2 linked regions of the Homo sapiens genome follow. The protein of the gene in region 1 purifies or fractionates together with the protein of each later gene. This does not show direct contact. Each region holds a gene or a part of one and is shown in the gene's direction. Other genes may lie near its edges.

What was found.
Region 2: the proteins of ELF5 (region 1) and QDPR purify together in Homo sapiens (affinity purification with mass spectrometry; one large-scale study listed by BioGRID and IntAct). This does not show direct contact.

What each region holds. Positions count from the first base shown.
Region 1 is NC_000011.10:34,503,795-34,507,294, reverse strand, and holds part of ELF5 (ETS-related transcription factor Elf-5), read left to right. Parts: intron 1-1,541; coding exon of another isoform or gene 1,542-1,545; coding exon 1,546-1,666; intron 1,667-3,500. UniProt on the Homo sapiens protein: Transcriptionally activator that may play a role in regulating the later stages of keratinocytes terminal differentiation. Isoform 2 binds to DNA sequences containing the consensus nucleotide core sequence GGA[AT].
Region 2 is NC_000004.12:17,491,591-17,495,090, reverse strand, and holds part of QDPR (dihydropteridine reductase), read left to right. Parts: intron 1-2,750; coding exon 2,751-2,859; intron 2,860-3,500. UniProt on the Homo sapiens protein: Catalyzes the conversion of quinonoid dihydrobiopterin into tetrahydrobiopterin.

The sequences.
Region 1 (3,500 bases):
ACTCAGCATGAAGCCCAAAGTGAAGTGCTTGTTGCAATTACCACAGGTCCACACTCGTCTCCAAAACCTTGGGCCGCACATGCTGCAGAATTCTGAATTCTTCACAGATTTAGGAAGGCGAGATAGTATATATACAGTGGAGTACAGATTACCCCTCAGGGTTTAGGGTTTGCTCTAAACATTAATATTTCTGCACTGCATCATAAGAATATTCACTCAGTGCAATAAATAAAACTGCAACCATAGTTATAAAACTGTATAACATATATATGTTGTATGTATGTGTATGTATGTATGAAACAGTATATAAAACTATATAACATCAATTCAGGACTGTTTTGTGCTAGAAAATAAGATTGCAGCAAACACACACACACGTACACACACACTTCCTTTCAGTTTTCAGAGCTTTCAGATTTCAGAATTATGGATTAATCACACACAGTAATTCTTACCTCATTTTTATTTATTTATTTTTTTCGGCCAGTTTCTGTGGCTCACACCTGTAATCCCAGGACTTTGGGAGGCCAAGAAGGGGAGATCACTTGAGGTCAGGAGTTCGAGACCAGCCTGGCCAACATGGTGAAACTCCATCTTTACTAAAAATACAAAAATTAGCCAGGTTTGATGGTACACACTTGTAGACCCAGCTACTCGGGAGGTGGAGGTGGGAGGATCGCTTGAACCCAGGAGGCAGAGGTTGCAGTGAGCCTAGATCACACCACTACACTCCAGCCTGGCGACAGAGCAGGATTACATCTTTTAAAAAAAACAATTTTATTTTATTTTTATTATTTCAACTTTTAGTTTAGATTCAGGGGGTATGTGTGCAGGTTTGTTACCTGTGTGTATTGCACCATGCTGAGGTTTCAGGTGCTATTGATCTCATCACACAGGTACTGAGTATAGTATCCAGTAGTTAGTTTTTCAACCTTGGCCCCCTTCCCTGCCTCCTCCCTCTGGTAGTCCCCAGTGTCTATTGTCCCCACCTTTATGTCCAGGAGTACTCAACATTTAGTGCCCCCTTCTAAGTGAGAAGATGAGGTATACGGTTTTCTGTTCCTGACTTAATTTGCTCGGGATAATAGCCTCCAGCTGCATCTGTGTTACTGCACAGGGCATGATCTTGTTCTTTCTTATGGCTGCATCTCACGCTGTTTCTAGAAGCATATTATTGAACATCATAAGTCAGAGTTCAGGGGTCAGATGTGAGCAAACAGGAAACATAAATAAAGAGGCAATATTGCATAATCAGAGCCTCCATGCTCCAGTCCCCTCTTTGCCACTTTCTAGTTATATCACTTTGGCAATTGTCTCAACCCTTTTGCCTCAGTTTTCTCATCTAAAATGGGGATAGACAGGATATGGCAAGGGTGGAATAATGTCACTCGTAGGTGACACTAGGCGGTGCCTGCTCCTAGTGAGTGACATATTTGTTATCATTTTTAAAAAACAAGTATCGCCCTGCTAGGGGCTCCTGCACAGTGTGGCTTCAGGAGTACCTCACCCCAGCCTCCTCACGACCTCTCCTGCTGTTGCAGGGTAATGTTGGACTCGGTGACACACAGCACCTTCCTGCCTAATGCATCCTTCTGCGATCCCCTGATGTCGTGGACTGATCTGTTCAGCAATGAAGAGTACTACCCTGCCTTTGAGCATCAGACAGGTGCGTACATTTGAAGGAGCCCATCTGAGTGCAGCCAGGATGGGCTAGGGCAGGAGGTGGTGCTGGCCGCAGGTGGAAGACAAAGCTGTGCTGGGGCCTAGGAACACCAGAGTTCAGGGCAGAGGGCTGGAGGGCTCCTGGATGGAAGGAAGGGCAACCTCTTGCAGATAAAAGGTGCTGGAACCCTCACCCCCAAACTCCCTAGTTCTGTGGCCTCGAGGCCGTGCACGGCTCAGCTAACCTCTCTGAGCCTCGTTTTGCTGCCAAGTAAAATGTACGTCTCTTGGAGTTATTATGATATTTAAACAATGTAGTAGAAAGAAAGCCCTTAGCCCAGGACCTGGTATGCTGTGTTTGCTTGGTCATGGTGGTTTTAGCCAACATTTACTGAACACGAGCTGTGTACCAAACCTTGTGCCAAGCACCATCTCATCCTTGCCAAAGCCCTATGAGATGAACAATTATTATCCCCATTTTATACATGAAGAAACTGAGATACAGAGAGGCTAAGTGACTTGCCCTGGGCCTCACAGTTAAGCTCCATGCAAGTTGACCCATCTTATAATTGATATCACACTGTGGTTATTGATATTAATATATCATTATTCTCTGAGCTTCTATTTCTTTTTCCCTAAACCAGGGGTGATGAGAGCTACTATAAGGACTAAGGGAGCCAAAGGGTGTAAATATGTAGCCTGGCACAAAACAAGTGTTCAGTAAATATGAGCCCCTCACTGTTCCCCAGGCCTCCTTCCCCACCCTCCCTCCTCTTTCTCAGCCTGGATTTCTCCACCTGAGAAGGCAGCATGGGACCTTGAGAAAATCCCATGCCGGAGGGAGGCCAGCCGAGCTTTGCCCCCAGAAACCCTCTGAGGGCCTCTGTCACTGAGGTGCTTGGGTGACCACATATCACAGCACACCTGGCTGACTGCTGGCACAACAGGAGCACACGCTGCTCAGCGGTCATGCAAGTGCCAATCAAGCTGTCAGTCCTCACTGAGTGTTAACCCCATGTAGGAGTCCAGACTCAGTGTCCGGAGGCAGGCAGTGTGCAAGAGAGGCCATGCCTCCAGGGACTGCAAAAAGTCCACTACCAGAAGCCCCTGCCTCTGGGGCCAGGGACCAGGCCACACTCACAGACTTGAGGCACTTACCTACATAATGCAATCCCACACCTGCCCCCACCCCACATGGACACACATACACACACGCGTGCACACACACACACGCACATGTGAAATCTCTCACCCTCATCTGTAAGGTCTAGATCATTGCATTTGGACTTGAATCAAACAGATACATCTTACAATTCTCCTTTAGGCCTAAGAAGCACCTTGTTTCCCAGAAAGACATGAGAAATGTACTGTGTCTCCTTCCCTTGAACTTTGGTTAACAGGTTAAATCTGAAGGAGGAAAATGAAAACTTTCAAGTCGCCGTGCCCTCCCTATGTTTCCCACAGTGGTGGGGCCCAGCTCCAGGCTCTCTCTCTACCTATGCATAAGGCCAGGCCTCACTTAACCCAGACCTGCCATCATGAGAGCCCCCTCTTTCTGCCTATTCTGCTGGGAAGTAGTTGGGGTGGCAGTGGGAGGGGCGGGCTACAACCAGCTGCCCCAGGCAATGGCCTGGGCAGTGAAGCAGCGGCTCTGTGTCATGAAGACCTGGTGTGTCCCAAATGGGAAGTCTGGCTCTGACACTAGCTGTGTCATCTTAACCTCTCATGTCCCAGTTAGTTTCTCATCTGTAAAATGGGAATGACCACAATGCTACCTTGTAGAGTTGTTATGCTAATGAAATGAGTTATCATATGGGAAGTGTTTAGGACACAGTCCG
Region 2 (3,500 bases), on another chromosome or scaffold:
TGATGAGCTGGGAGAGTGGGAGAAGCATCACCCCCTCCCTGCCGCAGTCACTGGGAGAACATCTCCCTGGCAAGGTGCTGAGCAAAGCCCCTCCTACACCAGGCTGGGCTCCCTCCGCCCTGATCGGGTTCTGTGCGTGCCCTCCATGGTTTCCAAGGCCCTTGTTGGATGCAGTCTCCTTCCATCCTCAGCAGAGCCTTGTGAATAAATTGTGATCTGAGTTACCACTCCCACTGACAGATGGAAAAGCAGGCCCACAGAACCTGTGATTTTTTTTGGTGGCTGGAAAAACAGGAGTTAGGGCTGCACTTTTTGAATTCCAAGTTGATGACCCTTTTTGCAATTCCTTATTGCTGTCCGAGGAAAAAGAGTTGCCAGTGACCTGCTGAGAGTCATGAATGACAATAATGGCCAGGATTGAGTGTTCCTCTGTGCTCAGTACTGTACAAAGGGGATTTGTTAACCTGGAAAAAAAACAATCAATGGAGTTTTATTACTTGACATAATTAAGGAGGATGCTGGAAGTATTCTCCAAAGCAGCGTCTCTCCCAGGAGGGTTTCATGGGGTGATGGAGAGGGGAAAGGGTGTGTCATTGCATGTGGAGGAGGGGTCCCAGTGGCACAGATGCAGTGAGTCATCACGCCAGCACATAGTCACATGTTCTGGTGATGAAGCTGTAGCTCCTCCCGGGTGGAGACTGTAGCATGGTAATGAGGAAAGTCCACTTGGGATCATCTCTATAAGTTGCTGGTTTCACCTGACTTGGTGACTGCATTCCATGCAAGTTGTGGGAAAAACCAGGCTGAAGGGCAGGAGCCTGTGAAACAGGCTGATTGTTCAAGCTGATGAAACTCCTATAGTCCTTGGAGACCCTCCCTGTCTGCTACACTTGTACATGGTATTTTATTTGATTGTTGTATTATCCTTAGGATTTGGGATTGTCATTCCCATTTCACGAAATGGGAAACTGAGGATTCCAAGGTTTAGTAGCCTCTCCCAGTGTCAGTCACTAGCAAGCAGCAGAGCCTGGACACGAAGCCAGGTAGTCGGGTTCCAGGGCACATTACTTCTATTGATTTGATGGGAAACCTTCATTGAGTGCCTGTCCTGTGCTAAGGGTATGCTCACAATTAAGTACTCTATTCCTGTGTGTCGTTATGAGCCCCTCTGGATCACACCTGAGTTTATACTGATAAGGTGATTAGTAGGTTGGGGCCCCTAGACAGCCTCAGGATGGAGCTACTTCTTAGAATGACCAAGCAATTAGGAGGTTAGAACTTTCAGCTCCACCTACCGACCTCCTGGAAGGAAGCAGGGGCTGGAGATTAAGCTCTATAAAAACTTACAGATGTGATAAGCATCTGGGTTGAACACATGGAGGGCACTGGGAGGGTGGCGTGGCTGGAGCAGGCGTGGAAGTTCCATGCCCACCCCCTCTCCTACCCTGCCTCTGTGTCATTCCACCTGGCTGTTCCTGAGTTGTATCCTTTATAATAAACCAGTAACTATAAAAAAAGCGTTTGCCTGAGTTCTTCGAGCCATTCTAGCAAATTATTGCACCTGAAGAGGGGGTTGTGCAAACCCCTGATTAAGCTTGTTGGTCAGAAGTCTAAGTGGCCCAGGACTTGTGACTGCCATCTGAAGTAGGGTAGGTCTTGTGAGACTGAGCCCTTAAATCAGACGGGAGTACAGTGACGTGATCATAGCTAATTGCAGCCTTGACCTCCCCCAGGCTCAAGTGAACCTCCCACCTCAGCCTCCCGAGTAGCCGGGACCACAGGCATGTACCAGCAGGCATGGCTAATTTTTGTAGAGATGGGGTCCCACTACGTTGCCCAGGATGGTCTTGGAACTCTTGGGCTCAAGGGATTCTCCTGCCTCAGCCTCCCAAAGTGCTGGGATTAAAGGCACGAGGCACCACACCTAGCTGGGAGTTCTAATTGAATTGTCAGACACCCAGTTGGTGTCTGGAGACTTAGAGAATTGACTGTGTTAGAAAACACCTCAAACCCATTTTACAGATGCAGCAACTGAGGATTAGAGAGGTTTTGGGAACTTTCCCAGAATTTATTTAGTGGTAAGTGGAGGAACTGGGATTTGAATGTGTGTAATTTGACTTTAAGTCCTATACTCCAAGTGACTGCTTGATTTTGCTGTCCCATTGAGTACCTCTGTGTGCCAGGTGCTCACAAGCATTTAGTGATCAAAAGGTTCAGAACCCATTTCTTGCCTGGGCTTTAACCTCTCCATCAGCTTTGGCACAAGTCTGTGTGTGAGCCTGGCATGTACTCAACCTGTCTTGAGTCTTGGTTTCCTAAGAATAAAAATAAGATCAACCTTCTGGCTTTTGTAATAAATGTTAAGTGTTAGATGAATAGTAAGTACACCTGAAATGTCATGTCTCCTCCACTTTTCTCTCCATAAATGTTCATTTATCTTTTCTTCCTGGCCTCTTCTGGACCCTGGAATGCTGCAGCTTGGATGCACCGGTGGCCTGTGTGAAGCCTGTGTGTTCTTGGAAACTGGCCAGAGGCCATAATTCCCAACCCACGTGTTCCCATCCCCTCTTTCTCGTGGCTCTCTGCCATTTTTTGATGGGGGTTGGTGAGGGCGTCTGACCTGAAGGAGGAGGCCAGATGCAGCTATTTATAAAGTTTTTAGGGAATAGAGATCTCAAGAGAAGATTGCATGTCCTTGCTGTCCCCCTGGCCGCCAGTGGTCACTGAGCCATCTTCTCCCCATTTCCCAGGTATGATCGGGTACGGCATGGCCAAGGGTGCTGTTCACCAGCTCTGCCAGAGCCTGGCTGGGAAGAACAGCGGCATGCCGCCCGGGGCAGCCGCCATCGCTGTGCTCCCGTAAGTGCTTGGGGTTCCCTGGCTGCTGCCCACCTCTGCCCCACTGCTGCAGGTGACCGTTTGTCTGACTGTAGCTTTCCACAGGCGACCTGGGTGTGCTCTCACCTCTGGTTCTGAAACACACCAAAGTCTCTTAAGATACTTATTATCTTAATCTGTTTGAATTGCTCTAACAAAATACCTTAGACTGGGTGATTTATAAACAGCAGAAATGTATTGCTCACAGTTCTGGAGGCTGGGAAGTCCAAGATGAAGGCACCAGCAGATTTGGTGCCTGGCGAGGGCTCATTCCTCATAGATGGCGCCTTCTATATGTGCTCACACGGTGGAAGGGGCAAATGGGCTCCCTCCAGCTTCCTTTATAAGCATGCTAATCCCCTCCTAAAGGCCCCCACTTGTCTCCTGCAGACCCCACCTCTTAATACTATTATGTTGCAGTTTGTGTTTTGTATGTGAGTTTGAGGGGGATACATTCAGACCATAGCAATACTTCCAGTTTTGGGTTCTCCTGGGCTGTCCAGAATGTTTGATTGGCTGGTTGGATGGGTCTGTCTTTTTTGCCTCTTTTTTTCCTCTCCCTTTCTTTTCTCCCTTCATTTCTTCCTTTAAAATTAGACTACACATTTTACTTTTTTATATGT